Linked DNA regions of Homo sapiens: region 2 is linked to region 1. The links come from fine-mapping of genetic effects on gene expression. A gene starts in region 1. The other region holds a variant in brackets. All regions are shown on one strand. Distances are from middle to middle. Region 1 holds the start of CAMK2D (calcium/calmodulin dependent protein kinase II delta). Region 2 has its middle 43 kb from the start of CAMK2D.

Evidence for each region. PIP is the estimated chance that this variant, and not a neighbour inherited with it, causes the effect.
Region 2: its variant is fine-mapped to the expression of CAMK2D in whole blood (TOPMed, PIP 0.99).

What each region holds. Positions count from the first base shown.
Region 1 is chr4:113,752,744-113,769,334 of GRCh38, forward strand. It overlaps CAMK2D (calcium/calmodulin dependent protein kinase II delta), which reads right to left and starts at 8,995. Exons shown (of 21, transcript NM_001321571.2): 1 at 8,261-8,995; 2 at 6,577-6,671. The coding sequence starts at 8,325. RefSeq lists a silencer at 8,782-9,191 and enhancers at 9,185-9,723, 9,724-10,262.
Region 2 is chr4:113,796,687-113,813,277 of GRCh38, forward strand. No RefSeq gene overlaps it. Among named protein-coding and RNA genes, the nearest start is that of CAMK2D, 43 kb to the left of the region's middle. The variant A/G (reference allele first, on the strand shown) is at 7,055.

The DNA.
Region 1 (16,591 bases):
ATTTTATAATAACATTTTTCACTATATTGTTGTCCTTCCAGAAGACAGCATGGAGGGACTGTCTGAAACTTCACTTTGATCTTGTTATAGTAGCATTTAAAAGACTATCTTCTCTCACAGGTTGGAACTCTAAATGTATTTTCCCAAAGAAATACTCAATCCCCCACACTGCAATGGGAAGATAAAATGTAAGGCATAGTGCTTTGTATGAAGGACTCTGAAGTTTGTAAGATCAGTTAAGCACACACAGGTAAATACAGACAGATTAAGATAAGTCCTCTCTAATAGCAATCAACAGGAGGTGACAGTGGAAAGAGTCAGAATTTACAGTCAGAGAAAACCAGATTGAAATCCTGACTCTTATCACTTACTAATTTTGAGGCCTTATACAAGAGCCTCAGTATTCTTTTTTAAAATGGACATAATATTGTTCTAGGAGGCTGCAGTGTGGATTAAATAAAATAAAACAAAGTATCTTGTAAATATATACTTATTGTCTCATAGAAGGGGCTCTTCAAATAATGGCTATTAATATTTATATTTTTCTAAATTATTATTAATGATGAAGATGGCATTATTGATTTTGGTAGTAATAAACATAGTTCTAAGGAGTTAAAATGAGACTGTAACACCAGAAAAGGGGCTCAGGTAACTAAAAAAATCAGTGATGTCATTGTGTCATTGTGTGTAATTACAATGATAGCTAAGAGATTTAAAAACAAAACCAAACAAACTTAACAAAAAAGCTGCCCTCTCTCCTCTTCAAACCTACCAATTTCCCTATGCTAGAGTAAGAGAAGTTATGGCAGATAAAAGGTCTATGATTTCTCCTTAAGTATTGCTAAATCTCTCAACTGGAATTAGAGGAATTTTGTCACTTAAGAAACAGCCTACGTCATTTAAAATAATTTTATTCTAAAAATAACTGTATACTGATAATTACAACAAATTTACCATATGAATAACATAACATTTTGTTATAATCAGATATTTAAACTACTTTGAGCAACTTCCCCAAATCATTTATTTAGACTTTTTTTTTCGGTTGGGTGGGGGCGGGGGTGGTACTTAAGCCCCATCTACATTATAGCTTTCAAAATTTCTTTAAATCAATACTATATGAAAGGCTTTCTTTATCTCCCTGGGCAGAAATAATCTTGTCCTCCTTTAAGAGCCCATAGTACTTTATTCATGCTTGAATTGTAATGCCATTCATGTCTTCTATTATGTTTATTTAGGTAGATAGCCTTTATTTTTCCTAACACTGTCCACTGAAATCATTTAATATTTATTAAATAAACACATAAAGACATGTGAATATGCTTAATGATCTATAAAGTGATTTGAAATATAAAGATATGTTTTACAGTTAAAATATTGCTAATACTCCATTTAATGCATTGCAGTGTAGTTTACTAGAAATACTATTGTAACTTAAAATCTTTAACACAGCCTCTATATAATCATTAATTGCCAATGATTTATTAAAACACTGCATACATTACACCCTAATAAATGGGGAAGACTGATGTTAAAAAATATACCAATCCAGCCCTAGAAATACTATGAGTCAACCTCAGTATAAGCCCAAGGAAGACTTTAAAAATAAATTAAAATTCTAGTTAACAAAAAAGTTAGATGCCCAAGAAAAGCCCAGTACATGTAAGATTTCTAGTAATTCGTGATTATTACCATTAAAAAGATCCATAAAAGGTGACATATTGCTAAATTTTAATTTTTATATTCAGTTTATTCAACATTTCAATGGAAATGAGAAGTATTAATCTAATTGTCTAAACAAAGTTCTCACACAATCAGGTAGAGGTTTACACTAGTTATTAATATCACAGTATGGCACCTGACAACCACTTTCTTTATTTTCTTCATTTAATGAAATACAGAAAAGAATTCTATTATTTCCTGGAAGTGTGGATATACTTTTTTTTTTTATTATTTGTGTCTCCTAACTAGTTCTGAAGAGCAGTAATGCTTTCATTCAATGAAAGAAGAAAATGAATGTTTAATATCAAGACCTATAGAAGAATGTAAATACAACTAAACGTAAGTAAAGGATACAAAATAATAAGGATGACACATGCCACTTCTGGGTCCATAACTGAAGAGTTGTGGAGATTCTATGTACAAATATAAAAATGATTTACTAATTTTTTTCTTAAAATGTTGTTCTTGCCAAGAAACCTTCAAATTTTAATTTGTCCAAATTGTTCCAATTTGCCAAATCAATAATGTATAATCAGAACTTAATCCATCTACATAGTCTCAGTTCTACTTCCAATTCAAGACAAGTAACCATGAAGTTGAGAAATTACAGTACTTTCTTGACTGCCTGGAAGCCAAAAATAAAAGAAAAGTAGCAAGAATTAGTTTTTAACATCCCTTTTACAACATCAAAAAAGGTTACTTAGGGATACACACACACACACACACACACACACACACACACAAAACATTTAGATTTTATAGATGAGGCCTAATTTTGCATACATGGTCAAGTAGTTTTATAAAGTCCTGATTCATGTACTACTAATATCACCAATTTAGGAATTAATAAAACTAGTAAAATCAAAGAATATCAAAATGACTTAACTGATTAAGCCTGAAGTTTTACAGAAATATAAAATGAAATCCCTTTTAACTTTAGCAATGGAGTAGAGGTAAAATACAGTTGTAATAACTTATTTTTTAACCCTATACTATAATGTATTATATTTTACAAAAACAGTGACTGTGACACATCAGAATCTATGTAATAGTCAAATGGTTTCTAACGATCAAGAAATACACTGGGAGATGAATGTCAAGAAGCCATTACTTCCACATAAAATATTTTACCACCACGAGGCTTTGAAATGCAAAATAAATCACAGGTACTATTTCTAAATTATCTGCCATCAGAACCATCAGTCCACTGGATTCTGAACTGCAGTCACAGCTCTTCTTGGACTTTATATAATTTGACAACAGTGTACAGTTCTAAACATGTATAAATAAACAGAATATCAAAGCAGCAGAAAAAAATTGGCTTTTGTTAAGTACTAATCTAACTGTGCTTGGGATTAAAATGGCGTAATTTCTAATTCTCATGAAAATATAAGGCAAAAATTCTATTATCACTATTCAACATTTACTAAGCATGCCCTCAATGCCCATCTAACAAAAACTTTTTAGAAGATAGAAATTACATATAAAATATAAGATGCTTGAGATGCTTCCATACTACTTATTTTCAAAATAAGCCAAATTATATATGAGTGTACCCATCTACATGCTCAGTATAATGAATGTTCTATGCACGCACATGCTAACACAAAAGGTAAGAAATTCTTCAATTGACTCAGAGTTCCCCAAATATGGTATGTATGACTAACAGCTGAGAGGAAATACAACTGAAACTGTCTGCTGGAAATCCATTAAAATCTAGGCACAGAAAAATGCCTGGTTGATAGTATAGTTGGATGTGCAAATTTATGCAGGAATGTAGCCAAATCTTTGGCAATTCCCTCATGGTCTTAGATTTATTAACAATAGCCCTTTCTTTTTCAGCTGTAATGTTACATTTAAAGAACATTAGTGGAGTTGGAGGACCTGCCTGGTCTTTAAAACAAATAGACTAAAGGCTTGGGTATACAGAGTCATGGAATTTCAAATACAAACAAAAATTTGCACAAAAAAAGTATGCTCCACAAAAGCTTCCATATGCAACTCTCAAAAATCAGTACCTTAGAAAAAACAAGCATACTATTTTGCAATTCTTTCTACATTTGCCTTTGAACGTATTCATTATTTTAAAAATTTTTCTGCAAAAATGATTTGTATCATCTTCTCTGAAATGAGTGTTATTAAAAGACTTCATAGGTTAAGACATATCCTCTTAATATACTACTTCACGGATTTATTTTCAGTATTTGCTTGTTGTTAGGAGTAAATTAAGTACTTAACTCTTACAAGTCATTTAACAACCACATTTGATTCTTGTTACTCTGTACTGAGCCCCTTCTATGCTCTCAATTCTGTGGAATGTTGTATCAAAAAATGAAAGCATGGTATTTTCTTCTTCAAGAGTTTATAATTCAATATGAGTACAAGTTAAACAAACGTATTCATTCAAAGGCACAAATATTCTACAACCAGTTCTGATTAGTGTGACAATATAAAATAAAATTGTTGACCATTTTGAAGGAAAAGTTCTGTAATTTTTCAGGAGAACAATAATAAGAGGTAAAATTGACACAATACTTTGCAGTTTAAGAAATGATTCTCATTGAATTCCCTGAATCCTCAGAACACCCCATGAGACTCCATGAGTATGATTTCCCATTTTACTGATGAAGAACCTGATATCCAGAAAAGGAAAGAGACTAAACGAAATTTATGCCTAAGTAGTAGAGCAAAGATTCAAACGTAGTTCTCACAGCTAAATCAAGGCTGCCACTGGATTTATAAGTTCTTTCATAAAAGTAATCTAATTTGATCATTATGACAATTTTATTAGATAATAATAGCAGATAATATTCATTGACTGCATATAGTGGGGCAGGTGCTGTTCTATGCTATGTTAATTCATTCATTCCACACAAAACCCTATGAGGAAGGGTTCTGTTATTACTGCTATTTTACAGATGAAGAAACTGAGGCTCAGAGAAACTAGTTAATGTGCTCAAGATCACACAGCCAGTAGGTATGGGCAGCAGAAGTTAAACTCAAGAGCTTCTGGTTGCAGCGTTAATAATGTTCTTCACCACCAGCTCACTCTTAGGTACGTTAACCTACAACAGGTTAAGAAACTTGCCCAAAGTCACAAGGAAAAAAAATTGCAGAAAACGGGCAAGAAGAATGTCTCCTAACTCTTCACCCTAGTTCCTTTTTCTAAGTAGAATAATGAAAATCATTACATCCAGAAGCGGTAAAAAGCTTTGGGACATGTAGGTAGTTCTTTGAAGCAGAATATGAGCAAGTAAGGAAACACTGGTGGAGTAGCAAGGAGAAAAGATTCCATCAGGCCAAAGAAGGCTTCTTCTCCACAGATTGAAGGGAAAAGAGAGTAAAATGTATGTGACCAGGGATAAGTACATTTGTTATTCTGATTTAGGGAGGACAAATTCAGATGAGTGAAGAGGGATGGCTCTAATTAAGAAAGTTAGTAAAAGTGAAGCACTACACTGATTTGTTTTGAAAGAAACACCACCAAAAATCTTGGAATAGGTATTGTAATGCTTTCAAAAGAAATGATACCCCCACCACAGCCAAAAGTATCTAGCACACAGAAGAAAATAAGAGAAGCACTGAAAGATTCTAACTACACATTTTCATTTTTTTAAATTAAAATGTCACTTATAGTTTAGCAATTCCTTTTCATTGTTAAAACCTTTCTGTGGAGTAGAGACTAAGAGAACATAATTAACATAATATTCTTCTCATTAGTTTTCATACCATGATTCTATGGTGCTGGTTACTTTATAGATCTTTCTCAGAATCATGTCAAAATCAGATGAAGGAAATTAAAACAACAACCCATGTGAATGGATAAACTAAAATACCAACCTAAACCTAAAATGCATGTTAAAAGTAGAATTTGCAATAAATATGGAAAAACTAATCATGGCAGAGACCGAAAGCAATGATGCCAGGATTTTGGTAAGAAGCACTTTTGAAAAGACATATTAAATGAGGAAAACTAAACCTAATGGAATTTCTTCTCTCATTACTTAAAATAAACCAGGTCACTGAGATGAGCGTACACTATGGTATTTTGTTCATTTTCATTTCATTTTTATACCATAAATTCCCATGGAAATACCTCAGACACGTGCCCACAATAATTGGAATGCCTAACATTTCAGCGTAAGTACTTTTGCATGAGTTCTACTAAATAAAAAGAATGCAGTGAGAGCCCTCCAAGTTTTTTGGTTATGTCAACAGCTATTTTACGAGTATGAATTATCTCTGTACCTATAAACTACATGTGTAAAATACATTACATGAGTCTGTGTGAAGCCTTAATGCGAAGACCAAGGTCTGAGCTGCACACAGAAACATCAAAATAAAACTAAACTTCCTAGAATATAGCAATCATAAATTTTCTTACCAAAGCTATTACTGTTAAATATACCTTGATGAATTAAGTTCAAGTGTAACTACAATTGAAATGTATGATTCAACTGAGCTATGACCTACTTCCCTCTCAAAAGCAAAAGGGAATTATGACAGTTGTGAGACTTATATTTTTCCATTCCATGGTCTAAAAGTTGTTTTATACTTAAACTATAAGCAAAATGCACCTGACATTTATTTGCTTTAAAATATAGTTATTCATGCTATTGCTCATAGGACAGATAGAATTTTAATAGCAATGTATCAAATAATAATTATATCTTTCCATGTATTTTTAAGCTGTACAGACCAAGAAGCATTCAGGAAGAAAATAATCTTAATATATAATATGATACCTAAGTCTAAAGTTCAGTTATAACTACATGATATATTTACATACAACAGAACCTATAATCAACATGACAAATACAAAATTAACCAATATATGTGGTTGAAAATACCCACCCCTAGCAGAAAGCTTTTTGGTGTTGATAATTTTGGCAGCATATTCTTGTCCAGTAGGAATTTTCATACATCTTCTCACCACTGAGAATGCCCCCCTGGAAACCAATAATTAGCAGGTCATTAATATAACAGATATAATATTTCATTAAAAATTTATAAAATCTGAGCATTTTTATTGATTTTAGTGGATTGCCAGTGAAGTACAGTAATATCCAGTAAATGAACAATTCTTCCTGGAAACCCAGACTTTCTTTAATGTTGAAGAATAAAAGTAAATTTTATTTAACTGGGAGCACACATTATTAATCAACAAAATGAAAGGAACTGCCAATTATGACCGCTCTTGTTTGCACAAGAAATTTGAAAACATTTTACAGTTCACACTCACAGCACCAAATGCTCTGAGAAAAACCCTGCACAGAACAGAGCAGACGAGGAGCAGCAAAAAAATCTGCTGCCTACTTATTTTGGTAGGAAACAAAAAATTAATGTGGTTCCAAGTAAGTAAACATGACGATTATTTTCATTAAAATATAAATCTTGAGCACATTAGTGTGGTTTAACAAATCCTGGTATGGTGATTTCTCTATGCCTTGTTTTGGACTGGGGGAGGGGAGAGATTTGAATTAAGCTGCTCTTCCGACATATTCTCCATGTTTTAACACCAGACAATATATACATATGTAATTTTTATTACTTTTAAAAATATTTACCTTTCCTTTAATTACAGTATAAACCAACAACATACATATAAACGCACTCCTTTCATAAAAGTAACAGTCGAAACTAGTGAAAGAGGAATTGGGTTTGGGTTCCATGCTACAAAAATCAGCATTCACGGCTTGGCCCCTAGGTCCCTTTGCATAAGTCCTCAGTAGGTCTCCTGCCTCCTTCCCTAACATCTCCAAGTAGTTCTGCCAGTCGGGTGAAGGAGGTGGTTTTACACAATGCTAGGCTACGCTTAAGAGCGCTCTCAGTCTCCAGAGGGCTTTTCCGTTGCCTGTATAAATAAATCCTCCCAGAGAACGCAAAGATGCACACGTAAATCCTAGGAAGAATGATGGTGAGCGGTAATCTGGTGCAAAGAACAACACTGGATATAGGGCAAGGGGTTGGGTTCTGTTGGGTGGCCCTTTTCCTGGACAGAACAACTACTGGATGCGAAATAGACTCTATGCCAAGTTGAACTTTCGGCATCAATAAATATGGCACCGTCTGAGGCTGTGAGTTCTCATCAGTACCTGGGTCATACGGCCGACACGCCGGCTAACCAGGAGGCATCTCTATTTACAGAAAACATGATCTATGTTGCATTTTACATGGGTTCTAATTTCCTCTCCAAACACACATTACACACAGGCGCGCGCGCACACTTCTCAGGATGATAGCTACAACTGCAGAGATCGTAAATTCACTAAGTCTCTCAGTGCAGGAGGGTGGGGGACCGGGAGAAGGTGGGCTAGGGACCATCAAAATGAGCCACAGTTGGAGTAAGGGTCCTACCCCTTCTGTGCTCCCTCCCTTTATTAAGACAGCACCTTCCCCAGAGCTGACAAACCAGGGGCCCTCCTCCCATTCCTCTCCCAAACTCCCTCGCCCCAAGACGGAGGCCGGTGGGTCGGGGGCAACGCGACCCGCCCTCAGCTGGAAAGGGGATATGCGGATGCCGGGCAAAGGTGCTTACTTTCCAAGCTCCTCGAAAAGCTGATACTCGTCCGTGAACCTGGTGCAGGTTGTGGTCGAAGCCATCCTCGGTCCGGGCTGTGCCCTGGCTGGGAGCGCGACGGACCAGAAGCGAGCAGACGCGCGGCTAACCCCGGGACTGGCCCCGCGGCGCTGTCACCCAGGGCCGCTCTTACTTTCCTGGTCCGAAAGTAGCTCGCCCGCGAGGGAGTGTGCGCAGGGGCGGGGCGGGAGGGGAGATGACCAGAAAGGGTGGCGTGGGGTCTCCTCCCCACAGTCCGCCGATCCTCCTCCTCCTGCGGGCCTCGCTTCCTTCTTCTCCACTGGACGCTCCACCCGCCCCTTTTCCAGTCCCTGTCCCCAAATGCAGGGGGTAAAGTACTCAAGAAGAGGGGGCCGGGAAATGGAAAAACAGCCAGGCACGGGACGAGTGGCAAGCAGTTGCGAAACGATCCGCACTGGAGCAGGAGGAGTAGAAGCAGAGGGGAGGGAGTCCGAGGGGGCGGAGGTGGAGTGCAGCGGGGCCGAGGCCGCGGAGCCCAGAGCGGACAGCCTGAGCCCAGCGGCCGCTGTCAGCAGGCTCAGGCGCGGGGCGCGCCGGGGCTCCGACGAGCGTGCGCGCCCGAGGCCGGCTTCCCTCCGGCGGGCGGCAGCGGCTCCGGCGAAGCGAGGCACCTTGGCGGCCTCGCGCTGCTCACGAGCCCGCGCGGCTTCAAGACGGCGCGGCGAGAGAAAGAGCGCTCGGCTCAGGCGAAGCCTCTTCTGCCGTCCCCAGGCCTCCGTCTCCTCCTCCGGCGCCTCCTCCCGCCGCTCCCTCCGCCTGCCAGCACCCCCTCCCTGGCGAAGCCCCCTCCTCGCTGGTCCCACACCTCCCTCTAGCGACTCCAAGCCTGTCCCTTCGTGGATCTCTCGCACTCCCTCCTTTGGTTGCACACACGAGCACACCAGTCTAGGGAGAAACCAGGTGGGTGGAGGAGGATGTGCGGGGGAGAAGACTGGAGGTTTGGGTGAATGAGGCGAGAAGTCACAGTTACCCATTTAAACCCGCACAGAGAAGGCTGCCTCAATCTGGGGCTGACTGAGCGGGAAGATGCAGGGCAACTCGAGGATGGCCCGGGGCAGCCGCCCTGGGTCGCGGAAGCCCACGCCCCTGTTTTGGGCGCCGGGCAGCAGGGACTTCTCCAGGCCGGTTCCCGGGCCACGACACCCGGTGGGCCGAGCAAGGGAGAGCAACCACTTCATCTCCACGCCGCTCAGAGTTGACACAGCAGGGGCCGGATGTGGGCTGTTCACTGCTCTCAGAGAAGGGTCCCAACCCTTCCCACAGCCACCAGCGACTGTCGGGGCAAAACCCAGCCTCAGCAGGGTTCACTGCGTCGCCAGCTCCCCAGAACCGGGCGCAGGTTTTCTCCCTCCCCCGCAGCCCCTTCTGCAAGGGGCAATGACGGCCCCTGAGCCACATTACACTTGCCACCTCCAGGCCCACCTCCCCCGCTGTTTTCCAGGATGGTGGCTGAGACTCTGGCAATCCCCAAAGGCCTTTGCTTTGGCTGTGAACGTTAAAAGAATGAAAGCAAAAACTCCGCCGCACAACCACACCTTCCCTTCCCTTCTGAGTAACTCCCCTGCAACCTCAGTAAGTTCTGATAGTAAGGCGAATTCTCGCGATATTTCCCACTCTGGCGGTCAGGGGGAGGTAGTAGGAAGGCTGGGTGTCGGTCACGCGACCCGGCGGGGGCTGACGTCATTCACATCACGTGAACACGTCTAGACTGTTTCGCTTTGCAAAGGGAAAAAAGAAAAGGGGCCGTCGTGTGTGCTTTTGCTTTCAGCCAGATAGTGGCAATTGAGTGCACTCCGTAAATGGCTATCTGGAAAAACCATTTAGCAGTTCAAGAATGTGTCCTTCCCTTTAGCATATCTGCCATTGTTTTCAGTAGGAGGAAAAAAAAAGTATGCATTACGATTTAAAATAGATAAACTGCTGCCGATTGCTAGAACAACTTCTGGGCCCTCTTTCCAGTTCTCCTTAATGAAACTATGCAATTGCAAATTTAGCCGCAGACCAAAAACAGCGTTATGGACGGTCTTTTTCAAATTACTGCCAATTGTTCTACAGCACGGGACTATAAAAACCTTGCAATCCTATTGCTAATTTGCTCGTGGTATTACTTCATAGACAAAATTTCACAGCTGAAAGATAAAAGATAATTTGCAGACACAAGAGAATCTAAGATTTAAAGGCGCTGCTGCTTGCTCCCAAAGACTGCTATTAATTAATGTTACTTTGTGGTCATAGATAATCCTAATTCCTTTTTTCCTGATCTGGGGAACGCTTCTGCCAATGAGTGAGCTTTTTACTGAAGTACTAAAAATGTTCACAAATTTTAACGTTTATTACAACAAAATTGAAGTTCGTATGTGTTTTGATTCCCAGCCGTAAAAGGCAAGAAATAACTGTGTAAAATGTAGTGCTATAGAAAAAGATGATACCAAGAACTGCATAAAAGAAACATGGTCTCTAAATATTAATAATTGGGCTATAAATTGAAAAAAAAAACACAATTTGGTCTTGGCTAAAGATTTGTAATATCTGAACTATTTAGCAATGTGGCTCCAAGGTGATAATGAAATAATTTAATATTTTTCCCTGAATCTAAGAATGAAACAGAAAAAGTAAAATTAAAACAATAAAGGTAATATAAAAATTTACATCTGGGAAGAAAATTGTTTCTTAAATATTCAAGTAATGAAGTCTACATAATTACAGTATTTATCTCAGTTATTTAAACTACCAATAATTGTAAATGGTTATAATTGTGGAGTACAATAAAGGAAACATAACTGAGTTTTAATACTGATGTATTATTAGACAATAAATGTGTACATTTTTTACAGCAAACACTGCTTAATCTGTACGTACCCTTTCTTTGATTTATATTTTAGACTAAATATTTCTCTTATTTGAACAAATATTTACAGTTATTTCTGAAGTTTGAACCTCCTTAAAAAGTAGTCAGATTAGCCGGGCGCAGTGGCTCACGCCTGTAATCTCAGCACTTTGGGAGGCCGAGGCGGGTGGATCATCTGAGGTCAGGGGTTCGAAACCATCCTGGCCAACATGGCAAAACCCCGTCTCTAATAAAAATACAAGATTAGTCGGGCATGGTGGCATATGCTTGTAATCCCAGCCACTTTGGAGGGTGAGGCAGGAGAATCGCTTGAACCTGGGAGAAGGAGGGAGGTTGCAGTGACCCGAATTCGCGCCACTGCACTCCAGCCTGGGCAACAAGAGCAAAACTCTGTCTGAAAAAAAAAAAATAGTCAGATCAAAGACTTTGTTGTTGTTGTTCTACTTCAACATCATTTCAGGAATAGCTACAAAATAGAGATAAATTCTAAAAAGTGTAGAAATGTAGACCTATAAACATAATAACACTGGATGTTAGTGCCAAATGTATTTACATTTCATTATACATGCCTTACTAACTGCATGTCTGATGAACATGGTAGAGAAAGTTAAGAGGGAGAGTTAGTGAATAAAAAGTTAGTCATTAAAGTTGTTGAAGATAATAAGGCAGGCTTTATTCAAGGGGGTCCATGGTGATCAGAACCACTGCAACCAGGTCTTGCAGGAGGAGAGAGAGATTGGACTCTATTTCAACTCTTAAAAGGCCAAGTGGGGATTTACAAGCAAGGAGCAGGGTAGAGGGCTGTGGATATAAAATGACTAAGTATTCTCCCTCTTTCCTCTTTGGCAACTTGGAATTTAAAAAAATCCAAGACTTCAGTAGTTTCACCCAGAAAGTACAAGTTTCTAATGCTTACATTAACAAAGGCAGATATTAACAGATACTAACATTCATTGATTTCCTCTGCTACAAAGTTATAAGATAAGAAACAGCGAAGAGATAATGTTATCTCTATAGCTCCCCAAAGTGCAGAGTCCATCAGTAAATAGCAGATTCCTGTGAAAATTTTAGCAGGTGCTGTGTTGAAGCCACTCTTCACTGCAGATTTGGAGGCTAGGGGAAAAAAGTAACAGCAAGTTGCTGCCTTTCCAAACTATGATAACTAAACCATATAGAGCCAGACAGTCTACTGATGAGCAGATAATCTGTTTACCAGACCATCCATTAGTGCAAGATGAATTTGCAGTTAAAAAACAAACTATTCATAAAAGCAAAGCTAACAACAGAAGATATTTTCTTTGTTTCATCATGTGCTGAAAGAATCTTTTTCCTAAAAATAAAAATAAATGTGCAAATAAATAAGAAAACAAGTGATATCCATACAATGAAGAAATGTCTCTTTTGCATTACTTGCAAGTACATTGGTCAGCATGCTTGACCCTCCATGAACATACATGTTTCCCTGACACTCTGCTAAAAGAATTGCAGTAGGAAGGTACATTAAATAAGATGTATAATACACAATAATTGTATAAAAGGTTATAGAGTCATTAATAAAGAAAATAACAGATTTTGACTCTTCTGTGTACCTCTAATGATTTTCATTGACTTTCAACTTTGCAAACACTTATTACACTGGACTGTAATTAGACTGTCAGACCCTTCCTGGCAGGGACTGTCATTCAGTCCCCCCACTGTATCACTAGCACAGGGTTTTTGCCACAACAGGTGCTCAAAAATACCTTTTTTTTAAAAAAAAAAAAAAACAATATTATGGTATTAACAGTCTTGACTTTCCAAATATTAAAAATGCCCAATCTTTAATAGGGTATAATGAGGCCCCTTTGTTGCAATATTTAGTTGATTCTTTGTAATCCTGAAGTAACTTGACTTCTCTGTATAATTTCATACTCTTGACCTGAAATTCTCTCTGTTGGTTTTCATGTCTGATACCACACTTTCTATTCACAATACCTCACCCATTCCACAACATTTCTGCCTCTTTTCTTCAGTATCATTCCTGGTCTCTTTTTTCTCTGCCTCTGTGGTAAGTGATAGTGCTTTCAACCTAGGATTCCATCTTAGGTTGCCTTTTTTTCTCATTTTACACAGCTTTCCTAGGCTGCCTTCATAGCTATCACTGTGTTAATTATCATATGTCTTAAATTTGACTCTCCAGATGTAGACCCTAAGACAAGAATGTATGGAAAAGGGATTTATTGAGGTAGTATTTCCAGGGACAAGGATAATGTTAAAGAAAAAAATCTCATTCAATGATACTTGCTGAAGTATAGTAAGACAGATTTTATTCAGACTATCACAGTAGGTATAGTTACCACTGCAAGGGGGTTTTGCAGTAGGGGAAAGAGATTGGGCTGAACTTCAAATGCAAAAAAAAAAAAAAAGGAAAAGTGGGAATTTATATCTAAGGAGTGGGAGTGGAGGAAGGTAGATGAATGGAAAATTACTAAAAGGAAACTTCTGAGGTAAGGGGATAGTCTGGCTAAACCTACCTAACAAGATTCTTACTGAAGGCAGGCTGGAAGATTCTGGATAAACAAACTTAGCAGGATTCTTAATAAAATTGGGCTGATGCAAACATTTGACATGGAAATTCAAACGTCGAGGGTAGGAAAGAGGATTGAGAGAAGCCTAACTAAAATTTGGTGAAGGAGAGACTCTTTGTCAGTAGAGAATTGGAGAACATGGGACAAAAACAATGCAAAAACAAAAAGCAGCATGTGCCTTCAAGTAAAGTCCCAGCATCAGCCTTATTTTCAGGGAGCTCTGGAGTATATGTTATACCCAGTTTTGTTACCCTCAAAGCAAGGGCTTTCCTATTTCTTCACCAGTCATTCATTGATCACTAGCAATGGAAGAGGGAAACAAACGGACATAAACTCCCTTGGGGTCAGGGTCTGGCCGTCCTTCCTGGCGGGTTGAACAGCTCCAGTGGCTCCAGAGTATGCCACTGAGGAAAAAGTCACAGGTAGAGGCTATTACAAGAAAAGACTGCAGAAGTGGGGTATGCACACAGAACTAGGGCATGGGCACAGAACTGGGATTCCAGAGAACGGAGAGTGGAAGCACCAACAGAATCAGCTGGATACTAAAGTGCTAATGACCCTGCAATCTCTGTCTGTAGCAAAGGTCTTTTTCTGAGCTTCAGACTCATATTGCCCGCTCCCTACAGGAAACTTCCTCCTGGACATTGCACCTCTGACTCAACATGTCTAAAATTAATATGTCTTCCTTCTACATCTGCACCTCCTCCATATCTCAGTGAAATTTCAGGGTCATCCCACAATCAATCACAAGTCCATATACATCATAACATTCCTACTGCAAATGCCTTAGTTTAGGCCACCATCGTTTCTCACTTGGATTCAGAGGAATTCATACTAAACAAATCTATCATGTCTCTTCTCAGTATAGATATCATTATTAGCTCCCCATATATCTTTAGGAAAAAAGTTCAAAAAGTCTTTAGTACACCCTACCAGGCATTTCAAACTACTCACTGCTTAGTTTCATACTCATTCCTTGTACCCACACATACCCTAACTCCTAAACATTTCTAGAATTATCTTGCATTTCTCATTACCAGCATTCTAGATCAAACTATTGTCTTCTCTAACCAGTTTGCGGAAACAACCTCTTAACTGCATTAATAATTGTGCTTTCTTCCCTCTCCTACACACAGCTGAGAGAAACATCTTTTGAAAATAAATTTGATCCCATCATTCCTTTGCTAAAATGTTTCAGGTATGCCTCCAGTGATCTTGAAATAAAGACCAAAATCTATCAAGGTTTAAAAAGCCTTACATGATCCTCCAATATTGTTATACTTACTATGATTAGTATTTTAACCTGTCTGAAAATTTTTGAATGGTTTGAGGCAGGCAGGTATCTACTTTCATTTTCTTTTCCCCTCAAATGGATAGCTAGTTTTGCCAATGCATTAACTGAATAGTCCATCTGTCCATCTTTATCCTTTCCCACTTGTTTGAAAGACCTTTTTTTTTTTTTTTTTTTTTGGAGACGGGGTCTCACTCTGCTTCCTAGGCGCTGGAGTGCAGTGGTGCGATCTCAGCTCACTGCAACCTCCACCTCCTGGATTCAAGCAATTCTCGTGCCTCAGTCTCCTGAGTAGCTGGAACTACAGGCATGCACCACTATGTCCAACTTTTTGTATTTCAGTAGAGACAGGCTTTCACCATGTTGCCCAGGCCGGTCTCAAACTCCTGAGCTCAGGCAATCTTTGGCCTCCCAAAGTGCACGGATTACAGGCGTGAGCTACTGTGCCTGGCCTGAAAGACCTTTAAAAAAAATCATATATTCATTTACATTGGATTATTTCATTACTCTTCATTACGTTCAGTTTATCACTTTGTCAATTCCTTTAACAGTACTCTTCTCTTGATTCATGTAGCTTTAGAGGAGGGTAGCATTTATCTCAACAATCTTGGTGTTTAAAAGTTAACTTTTCCTAAAAGCCAATGGCTTAGCCTTTAAATTACCTTGGTCAAAAGTCGAAAATTATTTTTTCATCATGTAGGGGCCAATACCAAGGATTCACTACATGCTATGTAGCGGGTAGCTAATACAAACTATAATCAAAATAGACTTTAGAATATATTTTTAATCTATTATCACCAAACCTACAGAATTATAGTACTCTGTCTCATTTACGTAATGAGATGTCCAGCCAATTTATTATTATTATTATTATTGAGATGGAGTCTCACTCTCTCCTGGAGTGCAATGGCACGATCTTGGCTCACTACAACCTCCAAGTCCCAGGTTCAAGCGATTCTTCTGCCTCAGCCTCCCGAGTAGCTGGGATTACAGGCGCCCACCACTACCCTCGGCTACATTTTGTATTTTTAGTAGAGATGGGGTTTCACCACGTTGGCCAGGCTGGTCTTGAACTCCTGACATCAGGTGATTCGCCAGCCTCGAGCCTCCCAAAGTGCTGGGATTACAGGCGTGAGCCACCTCGACCAGTGCTAATTTATTATTATTCAGGTGCTACTTATTCATTTCCTACATAGTCAAGGGCCCTGTTATTTCTTATTCTCCTGCTTTTTTGTTTCCTAGAGTTGGCTTAGACTTGTTGATTCATTCCTTCAAAAAGCAGAAAGAAGTTTTAAAAATCTGTTTGCCTAATGACTTAACACATGTGGCTAAACCTAACCACCAAGGTCTGTTCCATCTTACTACACAAACAAGGTTTGGGCTGAATACATAGCTAGAATACCAGATTTTCCTGTTTTGAGATTAATTTTTTGGCAAAGAAATGGAGCAAAAGTGATATATGCCGCTTCCAGACCTGGTTCATGTTCTGGAATGTTCTCTAATGTTCTTCAGTCTCTGAACGACTGGGATGGCAATTCCTAGGGCAATCTTATAAGTATCAT
Region 2 (16,591 bases), 44 kb after region 1:
GGGAAGTGAGGGGCCCCTCTGCCCAGCACCACCCCGTCTGGGAGGTGTACCCAACAGCTCATTGAGAACAGGCCATGATGACGATGGCGGTTTTGTCGAATAGAAAAGGGGGAAACGTGGGGAAAAGAAAGAGAGATCAAATTGTTACTGTGTCTGTGTAGAAAGAAGTAGACATAGGAGACTCCATTTTGTTCTGTACTAAGAAAAATTCTTCTGCCTTGGGATCCTGTTGATCTGTGACCTTACCCCCAACCCTGTGCTCTCTGAAACATGTGCTGTGTCCACTCAGGGTTAAATGGATTAAGGGCGGTGCAAGATGTGCTTTGTTAAACAGATGCTTGAAGGCAGCATGCTCGTTAAGAGTCATCACCACTCCCTAATCTCAAGTACCCAGGGACACAAACACTGCGGAAGGCCGCAGGGTCCTCTGCCTAGGAAAACCAGAGACCTTTGTTCACATGTTTATCTGCGGACCTTCTCTCCACTATTGTCCTATGACCCTGCCAAATCCCCCTCTCCGAGAAACACCCAAGAATGATCAATAAATACTAAAAAAATTAAAAATATATATATACTACAAAGCTATAGTAATCAAAACAACATGGTTTACAGTCATAAAAACAGAAACGTAGACCAATGGAACATAATGGAGAACCCAGATATACATTTATGTATTTACAGCCGACTCATTTTTTACAAAGATGCCAAGAACATACAATAGGGAAAGGACAGTCTCTTTAATAAATGATGCTGGAAAACTGGATAATCATATGCAGAAGAATGAAACTAGACCCCTATGTCTCACCACATACAAAAAATCAAATCAATATGCATTGAAGACTTAAATCTAAGACCTATCAAACTATGAAACTACTAGAAGAAATCATGGAAATCCTCCAGGATATTGTACTAGGCAAAGTTTTTTGTGTAAGACCTCAAAAGCACAGGCAACCAAAGCAAAAAATGGGCAGATGGGATTACATCAAACTAAAAATCTTATCACACACACATCAACACAGTAAAAAACCCACAGAATGCAAGAAAATATTTGCAAACTACCCATCTGAAAAAAGATTAATAACCAAAATATATAAGGAGCTCAAACAACTCAATAGTGGAAAAAAACCCAAATAATCCAATTAAACAATAGGCAAAACTTCTGAATAGACATTTCTCAAGAGAAGCCATACAAATGGCCAAGAGGTATGTGAAAAAGTGCTCAACATCTCTGATCATCAGAGAAATGCAACTCAAAACCAAAAATAAGATATCATCTCACCACAGTTAAAATACCTTTTATCAAAGATATAGGGAATAATGAATGCTGGCTAGGATGCAGAGAAAAAGGAACACATGTACACTGTTTTTGGGAATGTAAATTAGTACAGCCACTATGAAAAACACTGTAAAGTTTCCTCAGAAAAACAAAAAATAGAACTACCATTTGATTCAGCAATTTCACTTCTGGGTATATATCCAAAAGATGGGATATCAATATATTGAAGAGATATCTACACTCCCACATTTATTGAAGCACTATTTACAATAGCCAAAATATGAAATCAATCTTTAAGTGTCCATCAATGGATGAATAAAAAATGTGGCATATATACACAATGGAATATTACTCAGCTATTAAAAAGGAAAGAAATCCTGTCATTTGCAGCAACATGAATGAAACTGGAGATAATTATGTTAAGTAAGTGAAGCACAGAAAGACAAATATATTGCATGTTTTCATTTATATATGGGAGCTAAAAAAGTGGATCTCATGAAGATAGAGAGTAAATTGGTGATTACCAGAAGCCAGAAAGGGGAGGGGAGAAGGGGATGAGGAGAGGTTGACTAATGAATACAAATATATAGTTTAATAGAAGACATAAATCTAGCTTTTGATAGATTAGTAGGGTGACTGTGTTCTACAATAATCTATTGTATATTTCAAACTAGCTAGAAGAGAACAATTTAAATGTTTCTAGCATCAAGAAAATACAAGTATTTAAGGTGACTTAAGGTGATCAATTACACTGATCTAATCTTCACAAATTAAATAAATATACAAAATTATCACATGCACCCTCAAAATATTTACATCTCTTCTATATCAATGAAATAAAGAAAACAGAGTTTTTTAAAAGAAGGAAGACTGTAGAAGTTGAAGGGAAGACAGGAACAGATGTGCCAGCTGTCGAGGTTTGACTTCTTAATAGGCTTTAGTTAGAGTCTAATCTTTCCCTAGGATTCCTTTTGCAAATTAGATAAACTATACTGTGTCCAAGAAATAAACTCTACTTTGGCAAAATTCAAATAATATAACCATATTTCTTCTAAATACAAGTGTATAGCATCAGGAATTGGGTATAAATAGAATATTACTTTATCATTCAGGAAAAGAAAAGTTTAATCAGCTGTCAAAAGGTACTGAACTAAAGCTTAATGATTTATATTAGTATTTCCAGATTATATAAACTTAGCATAGGCGGGTATATAAAAAAGTTCATGGAGATGAAAAGTCTATTTGTGGTCCTAATTATTTTAAATTTGAAAATAATGAGCTACATGGAAAGTCAGAACAAAAACAAGCTTAAAAGAAAAGGAAAATGCTGGTTAGGAGGAGAGAGTTTCAGAGAATTAGATGAAATAAATTCAGAAATGTTTTGGGCCAAAATACCATCACCACTGTTGTTTGAATAACAATTTAAATGGCCTTTTCTATTGCCATTATTTATCTCTCTTTTCTCTCTATCAGGAGACAGTGATTTGTCTGAAACATGCTACTACCTTGTTTAAAAAATCTACTATTCTTCAAATTCTAACGAATTAAGTTTGAAATCCATTGCATGACATACAGTCTTACTTTTTAAGATTTATCTCCGATTTATCTCTATTTGCATATATTTAGATGTAAAATAGATCTTCCTGACTGTGCAAGGCACTTTTGCTCTCCCAGGCCTTTGGTTAGGTTATTTTCCAACGCAACAGTGCCTTTATATTCCTTTCATGGCTGGAGGAATCTTACGTATTCTTTAAGGTAAACTCAAAAGTCACTCCCTGTGAAAGGCACTAATTCAAATGGGATTTTTAAAAGTTCTCCTCATTAACCAAGGTAAAGATTTTAAAACATATAAGCTAGTATTTGTAACATACATGTAATATTTGCAAATGAAAACATGGCATGCTTGTATAGAGTTTCTCAATGCAAGAATTTAAGTCATTTAATAAATATAAAGAAAGAATTGTCTGTACCTCCAGAGTAGCTGCTATGGTAACACAAACCTAGCATCTTACAAAACAAAATAAAAAAAAACAGTGGGTGTTATGGTTTGAATGTTTGTCCCCTCCAAAACTCATGATAAAACTTAATTGCCATTGTAACTATATTAACAGTTGGGGTTACTAAGATATTAAGATCATTAAGATATTAATAGGTGATTAGGCTATAGGGCTCTACCCTCATGGGTGAGATTAATACCATTATGAAAAGACTGATTTGGCCCTTTCTTGCCCTCTCTTTGCCCTTTCACTTTATGCCATTTGATAATACAGCAAGAAGGCCCTCACGAGATGCCAGCACCTTAATATTGGACTTTCCAGCCTCCAGAACTGTTAGCCAATACATTTTTATTCATTATAAATCTCCCATTCTGTTTTTGTTTTGTTTTGTTTTGAGACAGAGTCTCGCTCTGTCGCCCAGGCTGGAGTGCAGTGGCGCAGTCTTGGCTCACTGCAAGCTCCGCCTCCCAGGTTCACGCCATTCTCTTGCCTCAGCCTCCCCAGTAGCTGGGACTACAGGCGCCTGCCACCATGCCCAGCTAATTTTTTGTATTTTTAGTAGAGACGGGGTTTCACCGTATTAGCCAGGATGGTCTTGATCTCCTGACCCCGTGATCCGCCCACCTCGGCCTCCCAAAGTGGCATCCTGTTTTATTTTGTTACAGCAGCACAAAATAGACTTAGGCAGTGGGAAAATAAAATAAAATTAAGTGTGACGATATAATCAAAGTACATATTATATTACATGCATGTAACAAAATACCCACAGACACCATAAAAATGTGCAAATATTATATATCTATAAAAATACACAAAAAACCCTGCTTAAATTCCACTGGAGGATTAACATACCAATAGCTCCTAAGAGTACATTATGCTTATCCAGATGTTTACAATGGCCAGAAATAAACTAAGGGCAACTGAAGCAATTCCTTGCTTTTGGAACTGTTAAAAAAAAATTTGCAAGATGTATTTAATTACTGACAATTTTTTTTTTTAAATGAACTCAGACAGATGCAGTTGTTCAGCTAAAGGGCTCGTTGATAGAACTGGTAAGTTATGCTTCACTCTGCTTTTAAAGATGGCTGTTAATGTGACTGATGTTTCTTGCTAACATGGTGAAATATAGTGAATCCTGATGGTTTCTTTAGCAGCTGGGTAGTAAATCTAGCAGCCAATCCAAGTTCTTATTTGTCTTGATGTTTCTTGTTTTATAGCTAGTGTAATGAAAAGCTAAGCATTCAAATAATAGGCCTGCTTACTGAGTCCACTGGCAGGTTCTGATTGGCTGGCAGACAGGCTTCCCTGTTCTAGGAAAGACATGCAAAATCCAGACCTCTTATGTTCTAGGAAAGAAAAATGTTGTTGATGACTGGCCCACAGGCCATAATTAAGAAAGAGTCTGAAGCATGATGGATATATTTTTAAAAATTTATGCTAGCATTGGAGCCATCTAATTCAAAAGTATGAAAATGAAGGCATAAAAGTAAGAGATATATTTTGTATTTGTTACCCTGGACATACCAGGCATTACATATCTGTTGCTTTCTATGAATGATTAGCCCAAAGCATGGCAAAGGAAACACTGAATGATTTATGAACTTATTGTTAGTTTTCATTTTAGATGATATTTTTCCATCAATTATGAAAATGTAAGAAGATATACAGAGCTTTATGCAGGATTATTTCCATAAAGCTTAATGGCTATGTTTTATGATTCAGAATATAAGCATCTTAATCATTGCAATAAATATTTGTAGTAGTATGCAGTTTGGCTCATTTGCTTATTTATTTTTCCTTCCCAGTTTTTTTCATCACCTTTATATTATGCTCTTAGGGACTGTATGCCTGCTAACATCCAAAGAATTCTTGAATGAATTACATACATTAAATACTATCTTTTGTCAGTGTTATTCTAGAAATTTAATTAGAAATGAAAAATATCTTCAAACAGTTTAGAAAAGTGGGTACTTATAAATAATGTTAAAAAGCCATTCTATTTTAGAAACATTGCTTAAGGAAGGAAAAAATCTATATAAAGGCATGATGAGACCACAATTCTTTGGGGGAAGATATGATGGAAAGAAACTGCAAACTGTATGTCATACCAATGGAATTAAATTGAAATGTAATAGTCAATGGTTTGATGGGAAAATAACTATGACATTAAGTTGTATAAAAAGAATGACAGCCTGAAGAAACTATGAGTTTCTATCTTTATAGTTACTACTAATCAGGTTTTATACTGAAGTCATGATTGATTTGCATTCTACAGTTGATTTGTGATAGGAAAAATTTGCAATGAAATTTAAAGAACAGTCCATTTACTGCTAATTTTGGGGGAAATTTTCTTGTGTTATACACCACAACAAAATGAATCCAGTAGTGAGATTGGAGTGGTCACCCAAAGCTGATAGAGCAGTTCATTCTTTTAAAATTTATAAGATTCCTTCTATCTCAGGTATTTCTAGTTCCTCTAGTATTTAAAAGTATAGATGTTAAGAGGATCACTTCAGCACTTCTGGAGGTCAGAGATATTACTTATCGAATTATCTTAAGCATTAAAAAATATATAGAGAGATAAAGGATCTCACTATATTGCTCAGGCTAGTCTTTAACCCTTGGATTCTAGCAATCCTCCTGCCTTGACCTTGCAAAGTGCTGGGGTTACAGGCATGAGCCACCATGCCTGGTCACTTGAAGCATTTTTAATTGAATTGTATATATTGTACAAGATCAATAAAAATTGTTCATTTATAAACTAACTAGAAATATTGAATGCTGAATGCTTGTTGAGGGTCATATAGTCTGTGGTGGATATACTCTGTATATTATTAGTAATTTATTACTGTGGAATAAATCGTCCCGACATTTAGTATCTTAACAAAACATTTATTATTTCCTGGTTTCTGTGTGTTAGGCATCTATGGGTGGCTTACCTGGGTGCCTCTGCCATAAAGTCTTTAACAAGACTGTAATCGAGATGGCAGACAGGGCAGTGTTCTCATCTGAAGGCTTGACTGGAGGAGATTCAATTTCAAGTTCGTTTGTGTGACTGTTGGCAGGACTCAGTCCTCCATAGGCTTTTGGACTAAGGTCTCAATTCCTCACTGGCTGGTGGCTGGTAGCCTCCTTCAGTTCACAGCCACATGAATTTCTCCATAGGGCAGTTCATAAGAGAGTGGCTGCTTTCCTCAGAATGAGTGAATGGGCAGCAACACAGGGCATCAAGATGGAAGCTACAGTCTCTTTTTAACATAACCTTGAAAGTAACAATCATTTCTGCATATGCTGTTAGTTAGAAGTGAGTTACTAATTCCAGCCTGCACTCAAGAGAAGGGTATTACACAAAGTCATGAATAGCAGAAGGTGGGGATCACTGGGGGTTATCTTAGAGGTTGCTCACCATGTGCCCAGTTATACGTGAAGAAATACTCAGAGTTTTAGTAACATTTTTAAGCAAAATGAGTAGTACATTTAGGAACTGGAGTCAAAATTGTTATCTTATTGATTTCAAAGTCCAGAGTATTTACATTGCAATACATTGCACTCCTATGGTAATAAAAAAATAAGTTTAAATGATCTGAGGAAGCACTGGAACAAGTCAAAGAATCAATATTAATAAGATTTTTTTTCAAAATGAGCTAGGTTGTACTTTAAGAGGTCATCCCAAACATGAATGTACTATTTGTATTTGTAGATTAGAAAAAAGCAAATGTAGAAGGATGACAGGATTGTGTAGATAAATATTTCATATAAATCCTACCCATAAATACTAGAA[A/G]TTAATACATAAATTTTGTTTGTTCAAAAAATTTAAAAAATTAAATGAATTTAAATTTCCAGCAACAAATATTTAGAAAATAAGAGTACAACATTATTCAGAGTGGCATAAGAAATCAAACACCTATCATGAAATATGAAATGCCTATGATCAGCAAACTACCAACTTCAAGAGGACAATCATAAGAGGAGTGATATACCATGCTCATAGTTTCAACGACTATATTGTAAAAAAGCTAATTCTTCTTAAATTGTTTTATAGCAAAACAATTAAATTGATTCCAAATCAATTAAATTGTTCGAATTGATACAATTCATTCCAAATCTTAATTTGAATGCTTTTTGAGTGTGTGTGTATGTTTGTGCAAATTGATCATCAACTGTTATAAAATTTACATGGAAATGAAAAGGTCCCAGAATGGCCAAGATTACCTGGAAGAAGGATAATAATTTGGAGGATTTACATTTAATGTGAAGATCATAAACCTACAATGTGGTATTGGTGCAAGGTTAGCCAAGTAAACCAAAGGTACAAGTCTAAAAAACAGACCAACACACACATAGTCACTTGATTTTTAATGATGGTAGTGCTTCAGGGCAATGAAGAAAATGGTACTGGGTTATGGTACCATTTTCAGTAAATGGTACTGGGTTAATTGGATATTCATATGAAACAAAGTGAATCACAGCATACACAAACATTAGTTTGTAATCTAAATGTGAATTTTAATGCAATAATCTTTTAGAGGAAAGCTTAGGAAGAAATTTCACGAATTTGAATTTGAGATCGGCAAAGATTTCTCTAAAGCAACACCATGGAAAGATGGTTAAATTGGACCACAAAAAATTTAAACCTTCTGTTAATCAAAAGACACCACTAGGAAGTGAAAAGACAAAGTGGAGGCAATATTTACAACATTTACAACGGACAGGAAACAGGTATCCAGAATCTGTAATGAACTTCTTACAAATGAATAAGAAAAGACAGGCCAATAAAAAAAATAGGCCGGGGAAATGAACAGGTACTTCATAAGACGATATCCTAGTGGCAAATAAATAGATAAAAAAGGTAGATTAACCTCATTGGTAATCAGAAAAATCAAAACAACACACCTAAAGAATGATTAAAATTAAACAAAATTAGACTGACAATCTTAAGCATTGGCTTATTAGTCCATTCTCACACTGTTATAAAGAAATGCCTGAAACTGGGTAATTTATGAAGAAAAGAGGTTTAATTGGCTCACGGTTCCACGGGCTGTACAGAAAGCATGGCTGGGGAGGCCTCAGGAAACTTACAATCATGGCAGAAAGTGAAGCTGGCACATCTTACATGGCCCCAGCCAGAAGAAAGAGAGTGAAGGAGGAGGTGCTACACACTTTTAAACAACTAGATCTTGTGAGAACTCACTATCATGAGAACAGTGAGGGAAAAATCTGTCCCCATAATCCAGTCATCTCCCACTAGTTCCCTCCTCCAACATTAAGTTTCACAATTCAACATGAGATTTGGGTGGGGACCCAAATCCAAACCATATCAATTGGCAATAATGTAAACTCATAGGATTGTACTTTAGTGAAATCACTTTTGAAGACTCTTTGGGCATTATTTACTAATGGTGAACACATGTTTACCAATGACCCAGAAATCCTAGGTTTACAACGAGCAGAAATGGAACATATGTGCACCAAAATAAATACATTAAGATGTCCATAGCAGTATAATTTTAATAGCCCAAAACTGGAAACAATTCAAATGTCTACCAAAGTAAAATGGGAAAATAAATATGCTACAGCAATGAAAAAAGATTAAACTACTGCTACTCAAAACAACACATTACCCTACAAACATAATCCTGAGTGGCAGAAGCCAGACATAAAATAATATATTCTGTATGATTTTATTTATACAGCTCAAAAAGAGGTAAGAATAAATCTCTGGTGTTGGAAATCAGGATAGCAATACACCTTGACGAGGAGGAAAGGGGGATTCTGGGATTTTGGAGTTGGTCTATTTCTTGATCCTGATGGTGGTTACATGGCTATTTACACTTTGTGATAATTCATTGAGCTGTATATTTATTTGAAAATATTAACACTTATTTAAAAATATTTAAAAGTCTGATTAATGGAATTGGATATGTATTTTTTAAATCTAAAATGTTAAAGGTCCAAAAATTAAATGGAGTGAATATTATAAAATGAATTTTAGGTTACACAAGCTTTTATTGACAATTATATAGATCTGAGCTCTGAGAACAAACTTCTTAATAAATTTACCAATGCAAATATATGGATGGGGCATGGAAATGATTACAATGACTAGAACAGTATAATATCTTTTGTGCAGAAGTAATAGGTGATTATAAGAAGATGTTATTATAAAAAAATAATTTATAGGCAAAAAACTAGGTGCTGGTGATGTTTCATTACATTTTAAATATCTCAGAAAATAAAAATTTTAAATTAGAATACCAGATAATTATAATTCAGGAACCTGATTTTATAGCATCTCTACAACTCTCTCTTCCTATATGAAAATTTATAATCTGGTTTAACTGAAGAATAAAACTATATAATGGCCAGCAATTTAAGACTCCTATTTGCATAGGGCGTTTTATCTGAACAAAGATGACAAGACTATGTATGTAATTATTAGGATCTGGAGAGCATCCTAAGAATAAGGACAGACCCAACTCTGTTCCTGATATAGGGTCTGAGATGGCAGCAATGAAAACCTGCTCTGTTGCAGCTATCTTAAGTCTAGTTAAGCACAGAATAAAGGAGCCAGTCAATTCATTTGCATTTTATTGTCAAATGTCAATATTTCTTTTATGTGTGACATAATTAAGAAGGGAGTGTGTATCTTCTATATGTTTTATTTACTGTGATTATACCTAATGCATTAGAGTAAGTGATCAATCAGATGTATGACACCTATATCCACACTGTCTTAAAAGAATTAAAAGTCCATGTCAACATCAATAACTAGTATTGTGTTAATTAGATGAATGGGAGGTAGTGGACTACAAGTCTGACACTTGGCCTGTAATCTTGACCATTGTCTAACTGTGTCCACAGGGACAGATCAATTGACATCTGTAAATCTAATTTTTCTCAGTATAAAACAAGGGTATTAGGCTCATTTAAAGAAATGTTTTCATCTGCTCTATAAAGCTATGTGACAGCTGATAATAGGTTTTTACTACCAAAAAGGAAAAAAATTACATAGTCTGTCACTGCCTCACAGCTTTCTAGATCACTGTAAGAAAAATAGAAAGAACATTGAAATATTGGACCTGAAGTCAGGAAATAGAAAATGAATCTCAGTTCTATTCTTACTAGCTTTGAGATGATGAGAAAGTCACCACACTTCTTTAAGCTTTAATTTTGTTCTCTTTAAAACTTTTACCTCTAAAAGCACTCACTTCAGAGCAGGATCCCAAAAATTGTTAACTCAATCTCAATACAACATATTTACAAGTGAAAAAATGTATTCTTTTGTATTTCCCCCCCTAGAAGGTTTTTGAGGAAATTTACATCATCCTTACCAGCTTTTCTACTCTTTACTAGCTTAATTTATCATTATGGATAAGAATTAGATTCTACCTCTCTTTGATTTAAGTCTCTAAATCTTCACATTTTCAAATTTGGTGAATATTTCTGGTATCTAACTTTTCCCCTCATGTTATAGCATATTCAGTGAGATGCATCATTTTAGGTTACCCATTTTTCCCCTGTAGCAAACTCAGGACTACTATTGCATGCAATTTGTATAATATAAGCTTTGATACATGCAATGTTCATTTTTTTAAAAAATCTCTAACTAAAAGCATGTTAAAGTAAATTAACTAGCAGAAACTTACTACAAATGTGCTGGAAGCCAGGATTGCAGCAAGGAAGTTGATGGAATTGTTCCTTTGGTTTAGGATATTGGCTGCTCTGCGGACAAATCACAATTTCTGTCTCTCATTTAAATTCTTGTGAGATAATCTGATTGGTGTCACTCAGCCAATAGACTGGATGCCCTTCAGTCAGAGTCCAACACTGGAATAAAAGCTGAGATCTGGGTGGTGGAGTAAGTGACAGAAATAAGGCTGTATGAGATGCCCAGGAATAGTTGGATGGGACGGTACCTAGAAAAAGGGGCCATGAATAGGAGTATATTCTCTGAGGAAGGAGTTCAGCAAGTTATCATGTCTTTATGTGCCCACTGTCATGCAGTGCAACATGAAGTTGAAATGTGTTTATAGTTTACCCAAAGCTAAAAATACAAGGATGCTAAAAATGATAATTGTAGACTATTTGTGATGTCTGGATTGCAAATTTCAACTCTGACTACATATGTTTTAGAGTTTAGATAGCAAATTATTTCTTACTGTAATGATTCTATGTTCTGCCATACATGTGCCATTAATGATTATATCTTCCACATTTATTTCATTTCATCATGTAAGAAATTGGACACATATACATAAATTTCTAAGTTAAAATTTATCTGAGACTTTAAGGTCTTCTGTCTTTTTTCATAGGATTTATTAATTTTGAAGAAAGCATAAAGTACTTCAAATTTAAAAGGACATGGCTAAAAAACTAAATGAACTATATGTATCTGAATTATTTCTTAAACCAAAGGCCAATTTAAAGTGATAGTCTAAGTTGAATATATTACTTGCATTTATAATTTTACCAGTATTCATATATATGTGCATCTAGTATCTGTTTGATTTTGAAATATAGGGAAATAAAATGAAATTGATTTTTTTAAGTGTGTAATAATATGCCACTCCAAAATAAGCCACTTTGGCGTGAGGATTATTTTGAGCTAAAGGCACCTAAAAAACAGCAAGTACAAGAAGGTCACTCTGACCTCCCCTTTTTTTTCCCTAAAAGCAGGAGACAGAACTCCCATATAGAAGATATTCTCATCATTCTAGAAAGAAAATAACATTCTCATTAGCAGAGATGGGGACTCAGAGTTGAGAAAAATCTGTACAAACAAACCTTGTTAAACTAACCCTTATCTTCCTAGTTCCCTTTTCACCATTAACTACCCTAGCCCAAGTCCTTCATCTTGTCACATTTTCGTAATTTACTACTCAGTGTCCAATTCAATATAGAAGCATTCAACTCTAACTCCTTCTTTGGGTCTTTATTTCCACATGATGGCTTCCATGTCATGTAAAACTAAAATTTATACTCAGTAAATGTGTATACTTTTCTCCTGTTATCTATCTTATGTCAATTAATTCTCAGGCCCAGCTGAAAACCCTAAAAAGGTAGAGATAAAATTTTTGCCTTCACTAAACTGTTTTTCTAAGGATGGTTGTGTAAAAAAATTTTTTTAAAATTATATGTGTGTATGTATATATATATATGTATCTCCACAGTTTATCACCAAAATGTTGGCTTCCATTATCCAATTTAGACGTGACCTAAATAACTCCAATCAAAAGAGCAAAAAAAAAAAAACAAAAAAAAAAAACAAAAAAACCCCTTCTCAAAGAAAAAAAAAAACTAAAAAAAAACTTTTCTCATAGCTACCAGCTAACAATGATGGCAACATTTTGCCTCCTGTGTTGCCCTTTAAAAGGGCAATAGAAAAAGGCGTTAGAGTGAAGGAAGAAAGCTTGCTGCTGAAAGACAGGAATGCTGCTTACTGTAAGCCTGGACAGCCCTAGTTTTCTCCATTCCGGGTCATGCTCTGAAGTGGGGCTGATGGCGAAATGTCACATCACCAGAGTACCCGCCTAGGGGAAGTACACCATGCTCATCACCCCATCAGAAACTTGGCCATTCCCCAAACTAGCATAATCTTAGTGAGGCATTTCCTGGGCACAAAAGTGTCTCATCTGCCACACCAAATTTGCAGATGCAATTTTTCCCCGTGTTTCCCTTGAAAAGAGAGTAGTAGTTATGAAAGCCACCAAGAAGCATAACATTCCAGGGAATATATATTTTTTCACTCAAGTGCTTTGAAAAAAGGTCTTAAGGTGGGTGAATTTAGGAAAAACTATTATATGTCAGAATAAATTATTACATGAATCAGAACTCAGAGCATAGTGTCCGAATTACTACTGTTAGGTATAATTGTTACAGATTCCAAGTTTAAAAATACATTCTAATTTATTCCTTTAAAAAATTTTTTTTACATAATTCTTTGTGACTCTTTTTTGAGAAAAAAGAAAAGATCTTTTCTGCCTTTAGAGTAATACATAACAGAAAACCTTTTGATAGTTTTGAGAAATGGTAAGCATAATATCCAAATTACAGCAGTTCTCATTATAATGGCACTGAATAATCACCTCATTAGTAGTGATTATCTTGATATTAACAGCAGTTCCCGACCTACAGATTTTTTTTGGCAAATGTTTAGTATGATTTGCAACAATGTGCAAACATTTTTTACTATATATTTTTTTACTTCTCAGTATTGAAGGAATTAGTTGGATGAAGATTTATGAGATATTGGATAATGTGAAATGTATTGACTGTCAGGAATCTTGTTTCAAGGAACTGCACTCCTTAGGAGTATGTGTGTGTGAGTGTGTGTGTGTGTATGCGTGTTTGTGTGTGTGTGTGTGTGTATCTTTCTTCATCATTTATTTTCTTGCATTATTATATTCTGAATCAAATTGCATTCTGGAAATGAATACTAGCATTAGGAGAAGCATTGCATTTTGATGGTGAATGATTTTGCAGAAATTATACACGGTTGATGGTAACTCTGTCAGTATTGTTGAAGTGTTTTCCTATATTTAAAATTTTAAGTTAGCAAATATTGAGAGTCAGAAATTCCTTATCCTCCCATTTTCCACTGTGTGTTTGTTTAAAACCCTCACTTCAATAATCCAAATTTCCCTTTGTTCATTGCCATGAAAGGAATAACTTGATGAACAAAATGAGCCAACATTTTGTCGACTAAAGACATTTTTCCCTTTTTGTGTGCCATCATTTTTCTTAATTTAAATAACAAAGCCATTTAACTGGATACTTTTTAAAATTGAGAGATAAAAAGCACTATTTATTAGCTTTAAAAAGTATTGCTTAATTCTTTATCCTCGTCTAACAAAAGATGGCTCTTTTGCCTTGGTCAATATTTTAACACACTTCTTTATTATGTTATTATTTGTGATCTGAATTAAGTAAGAAATTTGCAAGAAGAAAAAACCTCAGAGGTTAAAATATTTGATTGTTGCGTTTTGAACACATTTTAAACATGCTAGTTGTTAGAAGCAAAAATCAAGAATCAAACCTTTATTCTTTGAAAACTACTTAAAATAAAATGTTTTTATGAGTCAAATTAGTACTTTGGAAAGGACTCTGGAATGCTTACATCATACATAAACCACAGAGTCATCGCCACATTGGTTGAAATGAATACTTATTGTGTGGAAAGTGTTTTGGAACAAATGTGTTAGAAAAATGCATTTCAGGGAGATAGCTGGCAAAGCAACTTAGTGTTATATAATCAGGACTTCTCCTTAAATGCTTTTTTATTCTACCTATTCTATTATATAAAATCTAAAAATGTCTCTTTGAAGAACCAATTCATTATATTTCCTTTTATACTTCTTTTGGATATAAGATGACAAGAATATCAAAGTTCTTGAAAATAGGGAACATCTCAAACATAGCTCTTTAGGTGGTTTCACTAAAGATTAGGTAACATTCTGCCAACTTCAGAAACCCATCTGATTTAGAAAATCATCCCATGGCAGAGTAGTCTGTATTCATGATGACAGAATTCTCTGAGCTTCCCTTTCACACCTTCTGCTTCCTAGTTTCTTGTGACATTTTTTTGAGGAAACCTAGCAAGAATAAAGTTCAACATAGGAAATCTAAATGATGAATCATATGATGCCTTTTAGAAAAGAACCAATAGTTCCTTCTAGAGGAAGACTATGACCAGGCTATTTGCAAACAGGGTGTCATAGACTGTTTGCTTTCTTTCATCTCAATGATACAAGAAATATGAATAAATGCTGGTGATATTTCAGGAACAATTAGCAAACACTAAACTGTTTAAGTGTTACATGTAAGCAAGGAAGAGATCACAATGCCAGAGGAGATCCCACAAGATCAATGCTTTCTAGATGCTTTTATATTTAACAAACTGTGTGGAAAGCAGCATTAGAACATTGAAGCCTATCTGTTATATACATTTATAAATTAAGTTGAATCGTAGTTCTATTGATGCAGACAATTTGTCAGCATTTAAAAATTAAGACTTTTGGTACACTAGTAATAAAAACACAACTTGTGCTCTGAAGTGAAAAGTTACAACATTCAATCATTGATTTTCTGCCTCTTGTTGGAATGAGACTGACTGAAGTCTGAACAATGCTGCAATTGAAACATCAGTTCTCACAAAATACATCCCGTTTCTCCCAGGGATGAGCATGTCGCTCCAGGTCTGGGTTTTCTTACTTTTTTTTCAATGCTTAAATATTCCTCTGTCAATTAAAGGATGGATATGTGCTCAAGTAGGCAAGTAGGCATGGCAAAATTGCATAGAAACCAGACAGAACATTAATATTCCCACAAAGCAGCAAGAGAGAACAGGGAGCTTTTCCTGCTTTGATTAGTTACAAGAGTTGTGGCAAGATGTGCTTTAAATTATTGGTTTCTCTTAATGTTTTCTAGTTCTCTATCATTTTCTTTCTATTCTTCCTGGGGACAGTTTTATACAAACACAAAAAACTATAACAACAACAAAAAAAACCTACCCAACCCCAAACTCTGATTAGGCTGACGATGTTCTTTAACTCAGTATTTTGATTTCTAATAAATGTAATATTAAAAATTTTCCTTTGTACAGCAAATTTACATTAGGGATTGGGCATAGGCAGCATTATTATCTTCATTTTGATTTTTGGAACATTTCAGAAGATTCTGATACTAATTGGATAATAATAATAAATTCAGAGTAAATTTGTGCTTTTGGTCCATATGATGCTCAATATGCTATTGCAATTTAATATCCATTAAATTATATGATTTTTCATTTCTTTCATTTTATATATGAAGAAAAATAGGGCCCCTCCAGACATTCATTCTTGTTGAGAAAGGGATAGTTGAAGTATCATTCAAAATATACATAGTTCTAACACTTAAATTACTTGCTGAAGAAAAACAATCATCCACCCGAGCAACCAACCAACCGGCCAACCAAAAGACCCTTTGTGAGAATATTAGAATGATTATTTACTGGTGTGTGAACTCTATACAAGGAACTCCAACTCCTGAACCTATTTCTTTATCTCCGAAAGAGAAATAAAAATTATAATAGCATCTACCCTATTGAATCGTTGTGAAGAGTAAATGAGAGAAGACATGCAAAGTAAGTGATACACAGTTTGTGTTATGGACTGAATGTTTGTGTTCCCCACAAATCATAGGTTGATTCCATAACCCCAAAGTTACAGCATTTGGAGACGGGGCCTTTGGGAGGTAATTAGGGTTAGACAAGTTCACAGGGGTAGGGCCCTCATGATGGGATTAGTTCCCTTATAAAAGGAGACACCAGAAAGTTTTG